Homo sapiens: one gene and its partners. The protein of the gene in region 1 interacts with the protein of each later gene in a biochemical or structural test. Each region holds a gene or a part of one and is shown in the gene's direction. Other genes may lie near its edges. The genes, in order: PDPK1, PTPRB, PTPN12 and PTPRC.

Region 1 (5,672 bases):
GCCTAGTATGACGCCGTGCCCATCCAGTCCAGCGTGGTGTTATGTTCCTGCCCATCCCCATCAATGGTGAGGACCCAGACTGAGTCCAGCACGCCCCCTGGCATTCCTGGTGGCAGCAGGCAGGGCCCCGCCATGGACGGCACTGCAGCCGAGCCTCGGCCCGGCGCCGGCTCCCTGCAGCATGCCCAGCCTCCGCCGCAGCCTCGGAAGAAGCGGCCTGAGGACTTCAAGTTTGGGAAAATCCTTGGGGAAGGCTCTTTTTCCACGGTGAGTATTTGCTGCTGCTGTGTGTCAAACGTACGTGATTTCCTTGGGGAGGCTCACCTTCCTCGGGGCTTGCCGGAGACTCCAAGCAAGGCTGGTGTCCTTCCAGGCAGGAGGTCTCAGGCCCCTTGAGGGGTGTCACCTGTTGTGAAGGCCACTTGAGTCTTTGGGGGCTGGGTACCCCCCAAGCAGATGACGTGATGAGTGTGGCTAAATATTTAACCTGGTTTTGTAGATGAGAACGTTAGACACATCTCTTGATGGTCTGCGGAGGTTTTTTCTGATGTAGTTAATTTCATTTTAACCTGGCATCAGCAAGTTACATTCTGTGTCCTTGTGTCTCACTGGCAGGGCCCTGGGAAGCTGTTCTTTTTCTTAGATTGAAAGTTAGTATCTCTCCAGGGTTTTTGGGGACATTTATTGACCTCTTCTTATTTCTCTGTTTTGTTTTTTTGAATACATAAAACAGTACGCTCTGGACATTTGCTGGAGACACAGCCTCCAGAGTCTTGTGTTCCGAGTTTCACAAACAGGAGTATTGTCGCAGTACTGTCAAGTCACACTTGTTACCTGTCTTCGGGGTGTTTTTTCCTCTGAAAGCAAAGAAATGAAGGTCGAAAGCAGCTGACATGGGACGTTTTGCTGACGTGGGACCCATGAAGCCGTGTGTGGTTGTGGATTTAGTGAAGGTTGTAACAGGTTCAGGGGAGGCCTGAGCAACTCGGGGTGTACTGTCTCCATCTGGGCCTCTAAAGAGACAGAGTCCCGTGCCGCCACTGTGGTCGCCAAGGTGGCCGCCGTGTGCGTGCTAGGGCCATTCCAGGGAGCCCTGGGGGCACCTCACTCTGGAGGGCCTGGGTGAGTTCCTGAATAATTCTTTCTTGCCTGACCTTTGTGAAGAAACCGTAGGTGAGGTTTATTTTCCTTTTTTCTCTTTTTTACACATAGGAAATATTTCACAATGCAAAGAAAAACATGAAATATAGCTTACCCATATTCCCAACATATTGTTTTAATTAATGTTAACTTTTGCTGCCCTTACACTTTAGATTTTTTAAATTGCAGGTTTTATGAAATAATTTTTTTATAAAAGGATTATGCCCTCATGAAAAATGCCTTCAACCATGAGACTAGTCCCCAAAGTTTTGGGGACTCAGATCCTTTCAGAAAGAAGAAACTCTTTGGAAAACCTTGGGCATTCTGCATGGCTGCTTACAACCACCCAGTGAAAGAACAGGCCTCCTCTTTTCTCAGCTTTACCTGTTTTTTGAGACAGAGTCTTGCTCTGTCACCCAGGCTTGAGTGCAGTGGCATGATCATAGCTCACTGCAGCCTCGACTTCCTGGGCTCAAGTGATCCTCTTACCTCAGCCTCCCAAGTAGCTGCAGTTACAGGAATGCACCACCGTGCCCAGCTAATTGTAAAATTTTTTGTAGAGACAGGGTCTCACTTTGTTGCCCAGACTGGTCTTGAACTCCTAGGCTCGAGTGATTCTCTCCTCAGCCTTGCAAAGTGTTGGGATTACAGGCGTGAGCCACTGTGCTTGGCCTCAGTTTTACTTCCTTGTATGTCTCTTTTTAATTTAACTTTATTTTATTATGTATGTATTTATCCTTTTAGAAACAGAGTCTTGCTCTGTCACCTAGGCTGGAGTGCAGCGGTGTGATCATAGCTCACTGCAGCCTTCACCACCTGGGCTTAAGCGATCCTCCTGCCTTAGCCTCCTGAGTAGCTGGGACCACAGGCATGTGCCACCATACATGGCCCTTAACATTTATCTTGACTGAAAAAGGAAGACTCATCTGTGAAATTGCCTGTTTCCCTGGGTTCTGGAGATGGGTGGAGAGCAGGCACTGTCCCTCCAGGGGCTGTGGTCCGTGTCTTTCTGAACCTGCACCAGGGAGGTGCCCGGGAGAGCACGGTGAGCCGGAGGCTCCTCCATGGGGCTGTTTGGAATCCACAGTACTGGGTCTCAGATTACATGTGTTACCCTCAGTTCTTTCTCAGCTTTCCTGAAATGGAGATCACATAAAAGTTGATTTCCAGGGGAGGGGGAAAGGACAGTGATAGGAGGCTGGGCAAGAGCCAGCTGCAGCACCGGAGAGCCGGGAGGCCCCCTGAGGACGGTCACAACCTCCAGGGAGGGACACGTCACGCGCCATTCTCTGGAAGAGGATCCTTCCTTCTTGTAGGAAACCTGCTTGTGAAGTGTTGAGTTTAGACAACGGAAAGATCACATCAGTATCCCCTTAGAAAGGGTTCCACTAAATATCGGTGCTCGTTCACAATTCTTTCTTCCTCTTTTCTACTTATGAAGCTAGCACGTGCTCTTGTGGAGAAACGTGACCTCACAGAAACACATGAGCTAGAGAGGGGAGCCCTGCCCGGCCCACTTCCCCTTTCTCCCTGGCAGCTGAGAGCCATCCATGCGTGGCGTATTCCTCTGGGAAGACCTTGAGTATGTAGAGTCCCCAGAATCCAACTTCATTCTTCTTGAGTGCCACAAGGCGTCTCACATGGTGCTTTCCAGGATCTCTTCTGACGTGTCCCATCAGGAGTCCTGCCCCGATTGCGGCTCACAGCCCGGGGCCAGGTGGACCTGGCCCTGTGGCCTCCTGAAGGTCTTCCTGCCAGCCCCCAGGAATGTCACGGGACAGGTTTCCTCTGCTCCCTGCTCCTCAGGCCGTCCCCCTGTGGGTGTCTTAGGAGACACTTGTGTCCCACTTGGTGGTGGTGGGGCCTCCCTGGCACAGCTGCCTCATGCTCTCTGGCTAAACCGTGGGCCCACCAGGAATCTCCAGTCTGGTGCCTCAGGGTGTGCCCCAGGCTAGTCCGAGTGGAGGGTCTCTCCCCTGTTTGGGATGCCTGCCCTGCTGGAGTGCTCTGTCTCGGAGGTGGGGTTTGAGTGCAGGGCTCAGGGGTGCTGAGAGGACAGGGCAGGAGGCCTGCTGCATCCCGGGCAGGTGGCTCCCTCTTGTGGGCACGCAGGGCCATGCATTGCTGGTTTAGCTCCCTCTGTCCTTTACAGCCAGGCTCTCTTCATGGTGCCCACAAGCAACATCATACAAAATGTATGATAACAGTTATTTCCAAAAACGAAACTTCAGGGCAGCCTTTGCAATGAATGTATACTAGAAGGACATATTGTTGTCACAGAAGCCCCTGTGCCCTGCCACTTGTGGTGGCGCCACTGTCTTCCTTCTGTTGGTGAAGGGCGTGGCAGTCGAAGAGGTTCCTGAGTTTGTACTTGTGTTGCACCGTTAGGGCTGTTAGCAGCTGATCCAGAAGCTTCTGGAAACAACAGAGAGATGGATATGTTTTCTCTTAGCTGTTAGAACACATCAACACGAGCATTGGCTTTTAGCTCTACTTGTCAGTACAAGACCCAAAATATTTCACTGTAGACTCAAGCCTTCAGTGGGGACAGGAAGCGTGCGTGTGGGGCAGAGGGACTCGTCAGGCCCAGTGTCCTGGTTATTACATTGTGTGTTTCTTTTTCTCCTTTTCTTTCCCAACCAGGTTGTCCTGGCTCGAGAACTGGCAACCTCCAGAGAATATGCGAGTGAGTATGGGCTGCAGGGAGCTGTGCGTCCGGGAGCAGGGCAAGCGGCTCCGTGCAGGGCGGCTGGGGTGGCAGGGCCGGTGTTTCTGTGCTGATTTCAGGGTACAGGACACTGTTGGCTTTAGAGACCACCAGGCTGTTGTGTACAATGTTTGAAAGACTTTAATTTGTACCAGTTACCTTTGTGAGTCATGTCTTTAGTGTTTTTTGTTGTTTCTGATAGTAACTCACTTCTCTCTCACCTGAAGTTAAAATTCTGGAGAAGCGACATATCATAAAAGAGAACAAGGTCCCCTATGTAACCAGAGAGCGGGATGTCATGTCGCGCCTGGATCACCCCTTCTTTGTTAAGCTTTACTTCACATTTCAGGACGACGAGAAGCTGTGTATCCTTTGCGTGGTTGGTGCCGTCTGAAGCCACACCAGTCACCCCTCTCACTTGGAATCAGACCCTGTGTGTTCCCACAAGCAGCCCCCGCTCCCTGCCGAGTGGGGTCCCTCAGGCCGCTGACATTCAGGGAGGCAGCCGAGGCAGCGCCAGGGTGTGGCTGGGAGTCTGCACAGGACGTTACCTCCCGGAGAAGCCACCGATGTGGCTCCAGCACAGTCCTCTCTGCTGCGGCTTGCTTGGTCGGCGTCCCTTGCTCCCCTAGAGCGCCATCTTTTCTGTTATTAAACCTTGGCTCAGGAATCTGGGAGGCAAGGCCCGGTGGAAGTTGGGGTGGGCCCCACCTCTGCCCCATCCAGCTGACCTGTGGGCCTGCCAGTGGCTGGGCTGGCCACGCCACACCGTCGTCACCCCCAGCAGGTGCAGTCTGCATCTGCTCTTCTCCTCCCCCGCCACCCTCCAAGCTGGCCCAAGTGTCGTGGCCTCCCCATCCTGCCTGGGGAGGGGCCTGAGTCCTCCCACCTGTCCTCCCCGTCTCTCCCCAGCACCCGGCTCTTCTGTGTTAGAGCTTCGTTCTGGCCTGCTCCCACTCTCAGCACCATCCTGCAGCTCCTTCGGCTGCCGGCGGAGTGTGTGTGCTCTCTCTGTTTGGAGGTGCTTGCCAAGTGCAGGTTGATGGGTGATGGGGATGCGCTGCTATGCCGGGTGGCGTCTCTGCCCACGAGAAGCTTCGATTTTGGTGGAGGAGCTGGACGTGCACTGACGATCCGTGTCAGAGGCTTCCCGGCAGCAAGATGCGCTGCCAAGAGTCTTAGGGCTGGGTAGGGGCTGGCGGCAGTGTGGGGCTCTTTCAGCTCCTGGGCAGGAGTGTGTGGGGGGGCATGAAAGGCTGTGGTGGGCTGGGCCCCTGAGCCGTGGCAGCCTGGCACTGACTCTGGACTTCCTTCTCTTTGTGGCGGGGAACGTGGGGTTTGCTGTGGCTTCTCCTAGGCCAGGCGGGAGAACGGGCAGGAGAGCAGGGGCAGGGGCCGTGGTCGAGGTCTGATGAACAGACCGGTCAAGAGAATGGAGTCAGGGGCGGCTCCTGGGAGGTGGCCCTCAAGCCTAGTGCACAGCGGTGTCTGCTGCTGAGCTGGGAGAGACCGGGGCGGGTGCTGGGCTGGCATTTCATGCATCCGCTGGTGCCACCATTCAGGTCTGAGTGGGCACTTAGGTGCTGCCAGCAGAGCTCCAGGAGGAGTCAGGGCCGTGAGGACTTTCACAGCGAGCTGGCAGGCTGCCCAGAGGTTGGCTCCTCTGTGAGTGGAGCCTGGGTTCCCCCCAGTGCAGGGGTGAACACGAGGAGGGGCCCACCGAGGAGAGGAGATGGTGATGGGATGTTGCTCCCGAGCTCGAATGATGGAGACCCAGAGGCCACGGGATCAAACGATTTCTGATGGAGGGTGCTGGCTGCCCACG
Region 2 (5,672 bases), on another chromosome or scaffold:
CCATCTCCAACTCTTCCCGCGGCCCCTCCCGCTCAGCCATCTTGGACCGCTGTTCCCAGGCACCCCGATGGACCTGCTATGATCAGGAAGGCTTCCTTGAGGTGGAAAATGCCTCTCTCTTTCTCCAGAAACAAGGCTCCAGAGTAGTGGTCAAGAAGGCCAGGAAATACCTCCATAGCTGGATGAAAATAGATGTCAACAAGGAGGGAAAACTGGTCAATGAAAGCCTCTGTTTACAAAAAGGTGAGCTATTCCTTTCAGAGCAAATCCTGAAAGTCTTTCTACTAAATATCTTGGGGGTTTTGTTTGTTTGTTTGTTTGTTTGTTTTACATTTAAGGGAAGTCCACATGCCCCAACATATTTCCTATGGAAGATTCATAAGCTAATGGAGGTGGATGGTGACGTGCCCAATGATGGAAAACTTCATGACCCTCATTAAAATAAGCCCAACTTTTTCTATTGCTTTTTCTTCCTTCCCTTCTTGTCTTGCTTCTTTTATTAATTCAACAACTATTTCATGAGCCTCTCTTCTCTGCCAGTTAAGCACTGTTAGATGTAGGAATATGGATGTAGGCATATACACAGCCTATATATGTAATGACTAAAGTCAGTAATCGGAAAATTATTAGATTTTATTGACAGACACTTCTATTTGCTAATTATAATAAATTATTAGAACATCAGAATGGTGCTTGATAAGACTGGAAGATAGTTGTGTTTTTGCAAATCTCTTGTATTGCTGTTTAGGGGTAGATATCTTTTGGAGGTAACACACTTTTGAAATGTTAAGAATCAATGGGCAGCCACAGATTTTTCTAATTTATTGACCATTAATGGATATAACCCAGATAATGGACACATGTAGAAAATATGTTATACACATGTGCAAGCTCCTGGTGCAGGACACAGTTCAGTCCTGAGCTAGGAATTTTTGCTTGTGGAATATATAGGCAGTTTAATCTTCTCTTGAAGTTAATCATGCAATTGTGTATTTACTCTTCTATTAGAGGTTTGCTTTAGAAAGTCATGAAAGATAAAACTGATGAATCACAATATATTAGGCACCAATGAACCTTACAAAGCATGGGAAAAGTTATCAAGAAACGAAGCGCCTCACTAAGAAGACAAATTTTTCAGGGTTAAGTAAATTGTCCCAGATAAATTAGCAGCAGATCTATGATTAGAGCCTAAGTTTTTTGACTCTTTGTTCAGTGTACATTTTACTATACCAGAGGTTCCCAAATGCTTGACCACAGACTTGCCCCATGGCTTGCCTAAGAATCACCTGGGGTAGAAAAGGGAGGGCTTACTAAAAATACACATTCCCGTAGCTAATGCATCCTGGGCTTAATTCCTAGGTGATGGGTTGATAGGTGCAACAAAGCACCACGGCACACGTTTACCTATGTAACAAATCTGCACACCCTGCACATGTACCCCAAAACTAAAAATAAAAATTTAAAAAAAAATACACATTCCCAGGATTCTTTCCCACCATTTTTTCCTCTACAACCACCTCCAAGATTCTGTTTCAGGAAATCTGGATTTGTGCATAATACTTGATATTTATTAATCACCAGAAAATTTTGATCCATAATCCAATATGGAGATCAGCATCCACTGTATTGTTAAGTCTTTTCCTTAGGTGTTGATTTGTGAGGCTTATATTAGTCTTTCCACCATGGTAATCTTTGGACAATTTTTTCTCACTCATTCATTCTGTAAGTTAAAACAAGCATTTAACTAGATGCCATTTGAATGTGTTATGCTTTTCTACAATAAGTGGTATGCTTTGCTACAATAAAAGTTGAGAGTTATAGTTTCTGTTCTTATATCATTTCTGCCTATGAGAAAAAAACCTACTCAAAAATTCAACTTTATCAGAAAATATTCAGCATATAGCACCAATTTGTACAATACCTTTCCTGTGGTTCATCTATCAAGGCCTCTCCTAAATAATATAGAAACATTATAACTGTTCCATTTTTACTGTTTTACACAAGAAGTGAGATTCATCCCCAAACCCCAATCAAACCTTATTTAACATAAGATTACTTAGTTGGAACTTTAAAAAAAAGTAGATATGGACTCAGTGGTGAGTTATTCAAGATAAAAGATAATTCATAGAAAAACTACCTCCTATGACCCTCATACAAATATGTCTAGTAATAGACTTCGAAAATAAGGTAACTAGAATAAGCCATTTGCAATTAACCACTGAACAATGCTATATTCAAAAAATGCCTGATAATATGTGTTGGGGAAAGAAATTAATTTCTAGAAAAAGCAGAAGTTAAAATTTGCACAATTGTGGTACAAAAACACCCTTATATTTGAGTACACATAAGTATAACACATACTTTTGCTTTAACACAATTATAAGCTAACAGATATATTTTTCTGCTCCATCTTAAATATGCCATTGTGGGGTTTTTTCTTTTTGTTTTTGTTTTTTCTTTGGTTTTTGTTTTTAGAAACAAAGTCTTGCTCTGTTGCCCAGGCAGGAGAGCCATGGTGTGATCATAGCTCAATGTAGCCTCCAACTCCTGGGCTCAAGTGATCCTCCCACCTCAGCCTCCCAAAGTACTGGGATTACAGGCATGAATCACCATGCCCAGCCCTGATAAAAGTTTAAGAATAATACTTGTAGACCTATATCATGAGAGCTCACTGACTTGCTAGAGTAGCTACTGTGAAAAATTAACCGAAATGCATTCATATGTTTGCAATGAGTGATTTCAAATCATTGTTTAAGTTGGTAACTAAGTATTATAATCTACAGCAGCACAAATACATGTGTTGTTCATCTATGGGATGTGAATTTTTTTGTGTGTTCTTCCATGAAAGAAAGCAGACCTATGAAGGTAAAAATCTAAGCCACATGTTTCATATTTGTTTCATAAAAGACACATTAATGATTGTATTCAAGTTTCCAGGTAATATTTATTTAACACCTACTATGTGCCAGAGCTTGTGCTAGCACTCAGGTACCCTGTGCTAGTACTAAGGTGCCCTCCACAAGTGATTTTTGACCCAAGCTGCATATTAGACTCACATGGCAGCTTTTAACTAATACTAGAGTATAAAACCTGAGCTTTATCCTCTAAGCTGACTAAATGAGGTATTGTATTTTTAAAGTACTTCCTAGGTGATTCTGATGTGCAGCCAAGGTTGCAAATCATTAAATACATCTTATTCCTTAAAGTAATGGGGAAATCAGATAAGTAAATAAATAGGTAATTACAATAGAATGTAGAGAGAAGAAAGTACTTTCCTTTCCAATATATGTCCTTGCCAGTATGTCACATTAAGCACTCATTCCTTTTTTTTTTTTAATTATACTTTAAGTTCTAGGGTGCATGTGCACAATGTGCAGGTTTGTTACATAGGTATACGTGTGCCATGTTGGTTTGCTGCACTCATCAACTCGTCATTTACACTAGGCATTTCTCCCAGTGCTATCCTTCCCCCAGTCCCCCACCCCCCGACAGGACCCAGTGTGTGATGTCTCCTGCCCTGTGTCCAAGTGTTCTCGTTGTTCAATTTCCACCTATGAGTGGTACACGCGGTGTTTGGTTTTCTGTCCTTGTGATAGTTTGCTGAGAATGATGGTTTCCAGCTTCATCCATGTCCCTGCAAATGACATGAACTCATCATTTTTTATGGCTGCAATAGTATTCCATGGTGTATATGTGCCACATTTTCTTAATCTAGTCTACCATTGATGGACATTTGGGTTGGTTCCAAGTCTTTGCTATTGTGAATAGTGCCACAATAAATATACACGTGCATGTGTCTTTATAGTAGCTTGATTTATAATCCTTTGAGTATATACCCAGTAATGCAATCACTGGGTCAAATGGTATTTCTAGTTCTAGATCCTTGAAGAATCACCACACTGTCTTCCACAGTGGTTGAACTAGTTTACACTCCTACCAACAGTGTAAGTGTTCCAATTTCTCCACATCCTCTCCAGCATCTGTTGTTTCCTGACTTTTTAATGATTGCCATTCTAACTGGCAAGAGATGGTATCTCATTGTGGTTTTGATTTGCATTTCTCTGATGACCAGTGATGATAAGCATTTTTTCATGTGTCTGTTGGCTGCATAAATGTCTTCTTTTTAGAAGTGTCTGTTCATATCCTTTGCCCACTTTTTGATGGGGTTGTTTGTTTTTTTCTTGTAAATTTGTTTAAGTTCTTTGTAGATTCTGGATATTAGCCCTTTGTCATATGGGTAGATTGCAAAAATTTTCTCCCATTCTGTAGGTTGCCTGTTCACTCTGATGGTAGTTTCTTCTGCTGTGCAGAAGCTCTTTAGTTTAATTAGATCCCATTTGTCTATTTTGGCTTTTGTTGCCATTGCTTTTGGTGTTTTAGTCATGAGGTGTTTGCCCATGCCTATGTCCTGAATGGTATTGCCTAGGTTTTCTTCTAGGGTTTTTATGGTTTTAGGTCTAACATTTAAGTCTTTAATCCATCTTGAATTGATTTTTGTATAAGGTGTAAGGAAGGGATCCAGTTTCAGCTTTCTACATATGGCTAGCCAGTTTTCCCAGCTCCATTTATTAAATAGGGAATCCTTTCCCCATTGCTTGTTTTTGTCAGGTTTGTCAAAGATCAGATGGTTGTAGATGTGCGGTATTATTTCTGAGGGCTCTGTTCGGTTCCATTGGTCTATATCTCTGTTTTGGTACCAGTACCATGCTGTTTTGGTTACTGTAGCCTTGTAGTATGGTTTGAAGTCAGGTAGTGTGATGCCTCCAGCTTTGTTCTTTTTGCTTAGGATTGTCTTGGCTATGTGGGCTCTTTTTTGGTTCCATATGAACTTTAAAGTAGTTTTTTCCAATTCTGTGAAGAAAGTCATTGGTAGCTTGATGGGAATGGCATTGAATCTATAAATTACCTTGGGCAGTATGGCCATTTTCACGATATTGATTCTTCCTATCCATGAGCATGGAATGTTCTTCCATGTGTTTGTGTCCTCTTTTATTTCGTTGAGCAGTGGTTTGTAGTTCTCCTTGAAGAGGTCCTTCACATCCCTTGTAAGTTGGATTCCTAGGTATTTTATTCTCTTTGTAGCAATTGTGAATGGGAGTTCATTCATGACTTGGCTCTCTGTCTGTTATTGGTGTGTAGTAATGCTTGTGATTTTTGCACATTGATTTTGTATCCTGAGACTTTGCTGAAATTGCTTAACAGCTTAAGGAGATCCAAAATTTCAGCCCAAAGCTGAGACTATGGGATTTTCTAAATATACAATCATGTCATCTGCAAACAGGGACAATTTGATTTCCTCTTTTCCTAATCGAATACCCTTTATTTCTTTCTCTTGCCTGATTGCCCTGGCCAGAACTCCCAACACTATGTCGAATAGGAGTGGTGAGAGAGGGCATCCTTGTCTTATGCCGGTTTTCAAAGGGAATGCTTCCAGTTTTTGCCCATTCAGTATGATATTGGCTGTGGGTTTATCATAAATAGCTCTTATTATTTTGAGATCTGTTCCATCAATACCTAGTTTATTGAGAGTTTTTAGCGTGAAGGGCTGTTGGATTTTGTCAAAGGCTTTTTCTGCATCTATTGAGATAATCATGTGGTTTTTGTTGTTGGTTCTGTTTATGTGATGGATTACATTTATTGATTTGCATATGTTGAACCAGCCTTGCATCCCA
Region 3 (5,672 bases), on another chromosome or scaffold:
GGTTTCGCCATATTTGCAGGCTGCTCTCGAACTCCTCATCTCAAGTGATCCATCTGCTTTGGCCTCCCAAAGTGCTGGGATTACAGGCGTGAGCCACCATGCCCGGCCTAAAACTAGTTTTTTACCGTCTTACTTTGGTTATGGAAGAAGAGATGGTGTGGTCCCTGGTCATTTCTTGTTTGCATGCTAGTCACCTTGTTATCCCTAGGCATATACCGTCAGGAAGGAGCATTGTTTGGTGATGCGGGCCATCAGGACAGGTTGCCCAGCCTCTGAACTCCTGTACTGGAGAAGTGGCCTTAGGGTTCATGCTTTGGGGATGAGTCAGGGATTCCTATTGGAGAGTTCATTTCTTTCTTTCTTTCTTTCTTTCTTTTTTTTTTGAGATGTAACACCTCGCTGTGTCGCCCAGGTTGGAGTGCAGTGGCTCAATCTCGGCTCACTGCATCCTCCACCTCCCAGGTTCAAGCGATTCTCCTGCCTCAGCCTCCTGAGTAGCTGAGATTACAGGCGCATGCCACCACGCCTGGCTAATTTTTGTATTTTTAGTAGAGATGGGATTTCACCATATTGGCCAGACTGGTCTTGAACTTTCATCTGACTGACTTTGTGATCTGCCCGCCTCAGCCTCCCAAAGTGCTAGGATTACAGGCATGAGCCACCGAGAGTTCATTTCTCCAAGAGTAAATGAGTTTCCTTTTTCTTCCATGATACCTAGGTATAGCTAGGTGATTCTACATTAGAGATTTGATGACTAAGGCTATTCTTTTATAGGGCTTTTTTTTTTTTTAATTTCCTGACTTGATAAGCAATAGCTGTAATTAAGACAGCCGGTAGTTGGTGCTGCTTTTTCCCCTGACTGGAAGGCTGGAGAGGAACTATGTTCTCCTGGCATGGAAAGAGAAAAAAAAGATTAGCTTATAGATTCTATTATTTTTAAATTCTGATGTCGATTAAAAATGCATTTTAAATTCTTAACATTTTATGACTGAGCCTTAGAGATAATGTAGCTGATATAACTGTTCCATCATAAAATAATGTTTATTCCAAATTTGGAAATTAATAGAATAATAATAATGCCTTACACTTAGACCACAGTTCAAATGAACACTCCACTTGCCTGACTGGTGATGATGCTCTTTTCGCTCTATCCAGCTGTCCTACAGTCCTGTCATTTAAAGGCTACCTCTGTTAATATTTTTTGGTTTTGTTTTGTTTTGTTGTTTTGTTCTGTTTTTGAGACAGGGTCTCACTCTGTCACCCAGGCTGGAGTGCATGGTTGCGATCCTGGCTCACGGCAGCGTCGGTCTCCCTGGGCTCAGGTGATCCTCCCACTTCAGCCTCCAGAGTAGCTGGGGCTATGGGCCCACCCCACCAAGCCCTGCTGATTTTTGTATTTTTTGTAGAGACAGGGTTTCCCCATGTTGCCCAGGCTGGTCTCAAACTCCTGGGCTCAAGCAATCCACCTGCCTCAGCCTCAAAGTGCTGGGGTTACAGGTGTGAGCCACCGTAGCCGGCCTACTACTTGGTAACTATCTTATATCTTAATTTTGTTTCTTTATGTTTGAGTATTTAGGTCATTCTACTTTCTGCTGTTACATATAGTAATTCTGTGATTAACATTTTTGCTGAAACTGACATTTTTCACTGTTGCATAAGATAGCTTCCCAGGAGTACTAGGTAGACGTATATAAACATTTAATACATGTTCATAAACTTGAAAAAGTTTTGTCAGTTTATACAACTGTCATAATGTATGAGTGTTCATATTATAATTTTCTTGATCTTTATTTGATGGTTGAAAACTGATATCTTGTTTTAACTTGAATTTCTTGATTACTATTGAGGATAGAAATTTTCCACCTGTCATTACTATTCTATGAGTGTCTATTCCTGGCCTTGGTTGTGCCCCATACTGTTAAAGAGGAGACAGCTAAGGTACCCAGACTGTGCAGAACTATGTTGCCTAGATGGTTATTTGCATGTTGAAAACATGCTAATTTTGCTAATAAATTAGCAAATAGCTAATTTGTGGCTGATCCAGAATTTGATCTCAATTATCTCTACTTTTAATATTTACAAAATGAGAGATAAATGTATAAAGTAGGGTGGTGCACATTCATGTTTGACAGACCTAGGTTTTAACTCCACACAGACTCCCTCTGATGGCTGGGGGTTGGGGAGGTGGTCCTGGACCATACTTTGAGAACCAGTGAGCTAATACATGGTAAATGATAAAGGTAATGCTGGGAAAGTTAGGTAGAGGTCTTTTTGTGAAGGATCTTACATCTATGCTATACTTAGATTTTATTCTACAGACCGATAATAGCAATTCTGGACAGTCTGCATTGTAACTCCTAGAGACATGGAGAAAGTAGGGAGGTGTTAAGAAAATAGACATGCTGGTCCACTCCAGCGTCATTCCCCCATCTCACCTTCTCCAGCCTGCTCCTTGAGTTGTACTCTGAACCTTCACTTACTTAGATAGGTTCTGGTAGAAAAGGTGAGAATCATTAGTCTGGGTTTCTGGAGCACTACTGAGTCTTTTAAGAAAGGTAAACAGTCATTTGTGTTTTACAAAGTTGAATCTGATAGCAGTATGAAGGGTGGCATTTTGGAAGCTGTTGAAATATAAGAAGTGAGATGTGAGGGCCTGAAGTGAACTGAGATGGGGAAATAGAGTGTATACAACACATCTGATAAGAATTAAGAAAGGAGTCTCAATGATTCATTAGATGTAGGTAGTAAAGAAGAAAAGAGTATAGTGTTATGACTCGCAAAATATCTAGCTTGGTATCTGTCACCCAAGCTAGAGAATACCATTTGGTAGAGTAAGGAGTGAGGGAGGAGAAACAAGTAGAGGAGACCAAACAACATTGTAGGAGGAAGTTTCAGGGGGAGAAGAGGATAAATTTAATTTTCAACATGTTAAAACTGCGGTGCCTCTGAGACATCCAGTAGAAATGTAGAGCTCAAGATTTCTGACAGGACGGAGTTAAAGATGTAGGCATCATAATATAAGCATGTAGGAGATAGTCGACAGCATGGGAGTGAATGAGCTTATTCCAACAAACTTATAGAGTGACCAGCTTTAGGTTGAAGAACATCAGTCTTAAAATAACAGCCAAAAGAAGGATATACTAGTGATTGTTCCTGAGAAGGTGTGGTCAAGGAGGAGGGAGGAGAACCAGAGATGTCAGAAAAGCCAGGGAGAGTTTCAAGAAAGGAGTTATTACCAGAGTCAAATAATGCTGGGAGGACCGGTAAGGTGAGGTTGAGAAAGTACCTATTCCATTTGGCACATAGGAGTGCTTTGGTGACTAGAAAAAACAGTTTGGGTTGGGGTATGGGAAGAAGCTAGATTATAGGGTGAAGGGTGGGTTTAGTGTCTTTCCATTTTTTTTAACATTTTGAAAGTAGATGGTAGGAGCTAGAGGAAGATTGGTTGAAGGAGAGTGTGCCCCTTCCACTGCCTTTTTTTTTTTTTTTTAAAGAGAGAACTAGAGAATATTTTTCTTATTATTTCTTGTCTATGTGTATATCCTCTTTAGCCTGGGAAGATCTTATGTTGCAGTCTTGATAAATATAAAAATTTTAATCATTTGTTTATTCAGTGTTGTAGCTTATAGGTTTAAAAAAACTAATAATAGCTTTATTGAGATATAAGTACCTACCATAAGATTTATTCATTTAAAGTCTATGATTCACTAGTTTTTTATTACATTGATGAAGTTATGCAACAATAACCATAATCAATTTTAGGACATTTTCTTCACTTTCTGTACCCATTAGCAGTCACTCCCCGCCTTCCCATAAGCCCCAGGCAACCACAAATCTACCTTCTGTTTCCATAGATTTAAGTATTCTGGACATTTTATATAAATGGAATCATACAATATGTGGTGTTTTGTGACTGACTCCACCTAACATGATGATTTCAAGTTTCATCCATGTTATAGTATTGATCCGTAGTACTTTTGGCCTTTTTATGGCTGAATAATATTCTATTGTATAGATACCACATTTTGTTTATCCATTCATCGTGTTGATGGGTATTTGAATTGTTTCCACTTTTTGGCTAATGTGAATAATGCAGCTATGAACATTTGTGTACAAGTTTCTGTGTGGACACATTTTCAGGTCTCTTGGGTATATATCTAAGTGTGGAATTGCTCAGTCACGTGGTAACACTATGTTTAACATTTTGCGGAACTGCCAGACTGTTATCCAAAGCTGCTGCACATATTACATTCCAATCAGGAATATATGAGGGTTCCAGTTCCTCTACATCTTCACCGATACTTGTTGCTGTCTTTTTGATTATAGGCATCCTACTGGGTGTGAAGTGGTATCTTCTTGTGGTTAGCTTGTAAGATTTTGTGTGTCTTAATTTGTCTTTCAAAGCTAGAGTGATAGGAAATATTTTCCAGTCCTTGCATTTGAGCTAATCTTAGTGCTTACCCAGTGCCACTGGTTTAGTTATGGTTTTCTTATCCATCCTTTGATGAGTATTCACCTAAACATATTTACATCAACTAACTTCAGAAGTGGAAGTGAACTTTTAAGTAACTCTCCAGACATGGTTCACTGAGACAGTAAACTAAAAATTTACTTTAAGCATTCTCAAGAATGTTTTACTTTATTTACTTTCAAAATATATTAACTTTTTTCCATCAATATTTGATATTTAACTTGGAAAAAGGATTTTTAAAGGATGAAACTGAAAGTAAGACATTAACATTTAGGTGGCTGTAGGTTTTTTGTTCATATGTTAAATACTTCTGTGTTTCTGTAGCACTGAGTTCATTAGATTCATAAATATTTACATTTCTGTCTTCCCCAGACTGAACGCCTCCCAGGCTAGAGACTGGGACTTAATTATCCCTGTATCCCCATTGCTTAATATAGTGCTTGGCATTTAATAGGCACTAATGTCCATTGCATGTGCAGACATTGTAGACAAACTTAATGCTGTAAGACAGATTTATTCTTCAGGTGAATTCTTCAGTGGTCCAAGGGTTTGTCTTCTAGACGATCATGAGAACTGCTTCTTCCCCTCCTACACAGATGTGCTCACATAACTCGTTGTATTTTCAGTATCCACTGAAAAAGAAAATACAAGATAAGAGCTACATTGAATTCAAATATTTTAAATAAATATGATTTTATTAGCTGCAGTTTCTTAAGGTAACTTCTGTATTTGTGCATCCCACACCCAATGGATCATACTTTGTTGACATTGTCTTAGAGTATTAATAAAATGTCTTTTAAACTTTTGGCTTTGGACTTAATAAAATCAAGATATCATGTCATCGGTATCTCTTCAAAAATAGTGAATTTGTGGGTATTTAGAGAGTGATTACAAGTGATATCTGTTGTTCTCTACTTGCCTCTAGTTTCTTTCCTCATCCAGTCCATTCAACACATCATACTCACTTTCAAGTGGCAGCATCTGTAGGCTAATGGAAACCATACTGGTTGTACAATCAGGAGATGTGGGCTGCACTGGAAGCATGGTTTAATTTTTATTATTAAAAATATAAGTTAAAAAAACTCATTGCTCCCTTTGATGACCATTACAATTATTGGAAATTTTAAATGTGTATTTTGAAAGTCAATTCAAAACATATGATCCAAGTGCTGCTCCTTTTTCAAACTGTAATTATGTCTGT
Region 4 (5,672 bases), on another chromosome or scaffold:
AAGAGAATATACTTAGCCAAGCCTAAAACTAAATGAGGTGGAGTGATTCAGAAATCAATACCTGACACTTCCCAGTGAAGCCGGTGGATAGAAGCTAGTATAGTATGATGGCAGGAATATCAAAGTGCTTGGTTGATTTGAAAGCAAATGAGTAGAAATGGTTTGCAAGTAGAATCAGGGATCAAGGAGAACACGTATCTTTTCTTGAAGCTGTGAGGTAAATGGGGTGTGAGGAGGAAAGTCAACTTTTTCTTAAAAGGGCTGCTGAGTTATTGGTGGTGTCCTTAGCTGACATCCAGGTTTTAATTGGTGGAAAGAAAAAAAAAAGGGTGAAGTGACTGTTGGGAGAAGATGATTAAGATAAATGGGAGTTCACAGATGACAGACGATGGGCATCAGAGGGCAGGGAGGAAGGCACTGATGGGTTAGATGTAAGAGACTGGGTTGTATCTGAGGATACAAATAACCATTCAGGAATAAAAATCTGGGGAATGTGGATGCACTGGGAAGCTTAGACTTGTGATGGCAAGTGAAACAGGTAGAGATTTAAGAGTGACAGATCCTTTGTGTCTTAGATGAAGGTGAGCCATTAATTCCACCTATAATCCTGAGTATTGCTACAGGGCATAGGCTGCCTCGGTGACTACACTCACAAGAGCACAAGGTGTTGTAACAGTTTCCAAAACATCTGGTCCTTCATGCAGCTCATGGTGGTGTTCAAGTGGCCTAAAATTCAGTGATGATATTTTCTTTCACTCAATTACGTAGCAAAGAATGAGGTTTGAAACAGGGTGCCATAATTAGTTTGAATGAGGGTACTATGCTGAAAAAATATATGTCTATATACACACACGTATCTACATGCGTGTGTGTGTATATAAAATCTTACCGAATTGTACATGAGGAGCCTTCTCAGTTTCAGTTATTTGTAACATTATCTATTATCATTAAATATTATTCACTTGACAAATACTTATTTAAGGACTAGTGGAAAGACTGTAGGCAGGGGTGTCTTCCAGAAGAAATTGGTATTTAAACTGATACCTAGAGGGTAAGAAAAGTTATTAGAGCAACCAAAAGGGGAAAGGGTAGTTCAAGCAAGAAAAAAAAAAAAAAGTGTTTATGTGCCAAGAGTTGAAGAACAGCTTGGCCCTTCCAAGAATTGAGGAAGCTGGTTTGGTAGAAGTATTGAGGGACCCAGTAAGGTGTAAGGCTGGAGAAACAGTCAGGGGCGTATCAATAAAGACTTTTTATGCTATTTTGAGGAGGTTTGTTGTCCTCTTATAGTGATGGAAAGCTGTTCATCTTCAGAAGAGCATCTTCTGTTTTGTGTTTTAGAAGGATTAGAGCAGGCGAGATTGAAGACAAAGAGGCCAGTTAGGAAATTGTTGATGTTTTACAAGCGAGAAATGAAGGCAGACTGGATTAAGTAGGAAGAAAGAAAACTAAAAGGATTTGTGTATAGAAATGATGGATCTTTTCTGACTAATTAGGAACTGTGGGTGAGAGGAAAGCAATCTGGAAGGTGTAAACAAATTAAGAATGAACTTTCAAAACATGTGCCAAGTCTCCTAAGAATGTGTTGTCTCCAAAGTTTATTTCTGATCATTTAAAATAACTTACCATTGCTTTTGCAATATAGATCAACATCGGTCTAGTGGTTTCAATTTATATAAGAACAAACTATATTATTTTTCTATCAAGCAGCTCTGAAGAAGGAGACATAGTCTGTTACATATATATCTTTAGTGCATACTAGCCCTGTCAAAAGGACTAAATGCCTGAGCAATTTAAAGAAAAAAAATCAGAGGCAAACCGAAAAATTATGGCCTATAGGGAGCATATGCAAATTTCACAAAAATTAATGAAATGCTTTTCCTTAGGGAGCATCTTATGATGCAATAAGCCAATATTTACATTTTAAAGGAGTTTTTCTGTTTTTTTTTTTTTTTTCAGAGACTTCCTTCATATAGGAGCTGGAGGACACAGCACATTGGAAATCAAGAAGAAAATAAAAGTAAAAACAGGAATTCTAATGTCATCCCATGTATGTAGTTTATTTTTTTATTTTTTGTATCAGATAAAGTTAAGCTCTTTTGGATTTGTTTAATGTGGGACACACAGTCATATAAATTATCTTGAAGCAAGTTTTCAACATTTGGTTGTTAATAGGGAAGAAGTTACTAGGTATTAAAATACTAGTTATTGCAAGAACTTATAATCCTGAACATTTACAATGGGCTTTGGAGGGTAGACTGTATTCAGTGTTTTCTTTTTACCAATTATTTCAGAAATGGGTTGTCATAAAAGAGAAATATATAAAGCTGGGAGAAAAAAGAGCAAGTCTCTTTTACCCATTTTCTTTCATTTTTAGTTTATTTCAGTTATTTACTCCAGGGTAATTGACAAATAGTAAAAATTACATCCATTTGTTCTCTATATGTTTCCTTTTTATCCCTTATAACTGGGAGGTTGAAAGTAAGGGGAAAATACTCTATAAATTCTAAATCTTCAAATTTAACAGATCAAAATATGCACAGTTTCAATACTTGAATTCTACTATTTAAGCATATTAAAATGATCACATATGGTAATTTTATTCAGCTGCATAAACTAAAATTAGCATGGATAAAATATAACACAAGTTGATAAATTAGATGACCAAATAAATCAGATCAGTGCATGGTTGACCTAGTTAATTTTCATAGGAGTCCTTATGAATGTAGTTTAAAATATGGAATTGATGGTGATATGGTTAATCAAATCATTTGACCAAGTTATTATAAATTATAGAAATTAAGAAACAGTGAGAAATTATAGGTCAAATAATTTTCTGGGCTAAATAATTAATCAAAGCTACCCATATAAGATTGTTAATTTAATATTACTGGAGTATAATTGAGGGAAAAAATCTACGCTATGTATTTTGTAAACTTATATCAAGCAGAATTATAATAGTCCATGGGAAATTAAAGTATATGTATCAAAGATTAAATAATCATATATAATGATATGATATCTCTTTGTTGTTTGACATGGAATTATGTTCCATGTTTTTTCCTGGAATCCTTTTTCTTAGACTTTTGTTGTATAATTTGTTTATCGACAAGTACTGAATTTTATATAGGATCTTATTTCATGTAGATCAGTAAGTTTTCATAATACAATCTGTCCCTTTTTAAATACTTTCAAATTTCCACATGACAATGAAGAAGAAATTTAATTTTTTCAAGGAAGACTTACTACTGATTTATTTCACATAGATGACTATAACAGAGTGCCACTTAAACATGAGCTGGAAATGAGTAAAGAGAGTGAGCATGATTCAGATGAATCCTCTGATGATGACAGTGATTCAGAGGAACCAAGCAAATACATCAATGCATCTTTTATAATGGTAGGTACTTAAATTGCCAAAACCCAAGATCCAAACATTTTAAAATAATATCTATGTTATTAGGGCCATTCATTAAGCGATTTTATAAAAGAATAATGAGCTTGGTCATAACTACATATAGATTGACATGAGAGTTTCAATTTCAATGCTACAATTTAACTTAATGAAAGATTTAAAAATACTATAACCTAATAACCTGAGACAAAATAAGATAATGCTATTGGTTATATTTTATGACAAATATAGCTATAATCACATCAATTTTAAAAATAGTAAAATTTGAGCAAATACAAGTATTTGAAAATGTTTATACATACTCAGATACCCAAATTGTAGGCAATGACAAATTTGTATATTTGTATGGTTAGAAACTTTTCATTCAGATAAACTGAATTATTAGGTGAGTCTGTGTCATATCCCCCCACTTTTTTAATTAACTGAGAATTCAAACAATGAAACTTTAGTCATTTATTAAATATTTATTATTTATACACTGTTGGATTTACTTATTTTCCAAAGTTTCCTAAAGCACACATTCATAGAATATTAGTTTAATTAGGAAATATAATAAGAATGTAAAGACACTAATTAAAATTAGTATAGACACGATGAAGGTAATTTGAAATGCTTAAGTAATTCCTTTTTACAATCACATTAACCTTTATAGAGAAACAAAAATGTGTGTCTTTTGTGGAAAGGAAAATTTGTTTCGCAAGATATGTTGTAATCTTGATTTCACATTATTAGCTAAGAATTACTATTATCTGTATAATTATTTTACATATAGCTATTACATTGTTTCTTGTAAGAAACATAAGAATATTACTATTTGTATGTAACAGCATTGATATCAAACTGACTATATTTCCAAATGGTTACTTTAAGAATCTACTGAGCTCTCTTCTGTAGTAACGAAGTCCCACCCTTTTTTTGTCTAAAAAGAGCTACTGGAAACCTGAAGTGATGATTGCTGCTCAGGGACCACTGAAGGAGACCATTGGTGACTTTTGGCAGATGATCTTCCAAAGAAAAGTCAAAGTTATTGTTATGCTGACAGAACTGAAACATGGAGACCAGGTTTGTACTTTTGAGGATTTTCTTTTAAGCCTTTCTGTCATAAAACGTCATTCTCTAGTCTTGGATTGCTTGCTTCATCGCCATACCCACGTCTTTTTTTATCCCTCCATCACATAATTCTGTCTGCTCAGTCTTACCCCTTTCACCCTGGTGTTGGCCTCCATCAGCTGTGTCTGGATTCTGACAGTCTCTCCTGTTTGTCCCCTCCAGTCTTGCATGCTGCTCACAGATTAGCCAGGATGCAGCAATGTCAGCGTCACAGCAAATAACAGCTACATTTTCACGCTGTTTTCCTCATTTTCTCAAGATAAAAGCCAAGATCTTTTTGTGATATCCAGCACCCTGGACAATCACCCCCTCATGTGTCTTTCATCTTCCTCCCATTTTTATGTTTTCCATCCTCTCCACTCTGGACAAGCAGGTTTCATGCCCAAGCCTAAACACGCCATTTGCATTGTCATCACTGAGTCTAAACTTATTGATATTCCATGTAACTAAATGTGTGCTGTCTTCCAGTTTTGACCCTATTCTTTTAACAAGACCAAACTCCTGAAAAATGTATCTATATCATCCTTTCTTTATTCCCATATAATATTTATTGCCATAAAAGTCTATAGTTGAAGGTGAATCTAAGCTATAATTTGATTTTTTTACTTAATGCTTGTGACAGATATTTTATCCTTTTCTTAATGTCTTCAGTTATTATTAAAATTTCCCTGGTGGTAGATCTCACTCAGCTTTAGCACCAACCACATTATCTGACATATGTTCAAGCCTATTCAGTGAATAACCTTATAAGTATGCAAAAGATTTATGCTTTTTTATGCCCCTCTCTCTCCCCTAAATCTCACTCTTTCTCACCCTCACCTGGTCCCCTTCCCCTGTACATGGAAAGTTGCTTTTTATGTTTTTTGTTTTAAAGGAATATAAGTCCAGATTTCTAGCATGGAATTCCCACAATCCTTTCCTTCATATAAATTGTGAAAGCTGGGAAACAGGATGGAAGTACCGGCAGGACTCCCTGTCTTTGTCAGAAATTGTGGGGTTGTAGTTGGTAGACAACAGTTTGTAGTAAGAAGAAACACTTTTGTGGTTCATCTACTCTTCAATCTGGCCCTTTCCTTAGCTATGTAGACAAAATATATAAAGCTGCTTATGGTGTTGGTCAACAAGATGACAGAGACAAAGCTCCAAAAGA

Evidence for each region.
Region 2: of the proteins of PDPK1 (region 1) and PTPRB, one has a biochemical effect on the other in vitro, tested with the Homo sapiens proteins (one large-scale study listed by IntAct).
Region 3: of the proteins of PDPK1 (region 1) and PTPN12, one has a biochemical effect on the other in vitro, tested with the Homo sapiens proteins (one large-scale study listed by IntAct).
Region 4: of the proteins of PDPK1 (region 1) and PTPRC, one has a biochemical effect on the other in vitro, tested with the Homo sapiens proteins (one large-scale study listed by IntAct).

Annotation. Positions count from the first base shown.
Region 1 is NC_000016.10:2,557,697-2,563,368, forward strand, and holds part of PDPK1 (3-phosphoinositide-dependent protein kinase 1), read left to right. Parts: intron 1-6; coding exon 7-267; intron 268-283; exon of another isoform or gene 284-3,783; coding exon 3,784-3,826; intron 3,827-4,049; exon of another isoform or gene 4,050-4,074; coding exon 4,075-4,212; intron 4,213-5,672. UniProt on the Homo sapiens protein: Serine/threonine kinase which acts as a master kinase, phosphorylating and activating a subgroup of the AGC family of protein kinases.
Region 2 is NC_000012.12:70,630,242-70,635,913, reverse strand, and holds part of PTPRB (receptor-type tyrosine-protein phosphatase beta), read left to right. Parts: coding exon 1-243; intron 244-5,672. UniProt on the Homo sapiens protein: Plays an important role in blood vessel remodeling and angiogenesis. Not necessary for the initial formation of blood vessels, but is essential for their maintenance and remodeling. Can induce dephosphorylation of TEK/TIE2, CDH5/VE-cadherin and KDR/VEGFR-2.
Region 3 is NC_000007.14:77,539,871-77,545,542, forward strand, and holds part of PTPN12 (tyrosine-protein phosphatase non-receptor type 12), read left to right. Parts: intron 1-5,672. UniProt on the Homo sapiens protein: Dephosphorylates a range of proteins, and thereby regulates cellular signaling cascades. Dephosphorylates cellular tyrosine kinases, such as ERBB2 and PTK2B/PYK2, and thereby regulates signaling via ERBB2 and PTK2B/PYK2.
Region 4 is NC_000001.11:198,746,153-198,751,824, forward strand, and holds part of PTPRC (receptor-type tyrosine-protein phosphatase C isoform 1 precursor), read left to right. Parts: intron 1-1,956; coding exon 1,957-2,047; intron 2,048-3,263; coding exon 3,264-3,397; intron 3,398-4,339; coding exon 4,340-4,474; intron 4,475-5,672. UniProt on the Homo sapiens protein: Protein tyrosine-protein phosphatase required for T-cell activation through the antigen receptor. Acts as a positive regulator of T-cell coactivation upon binding to DPP4.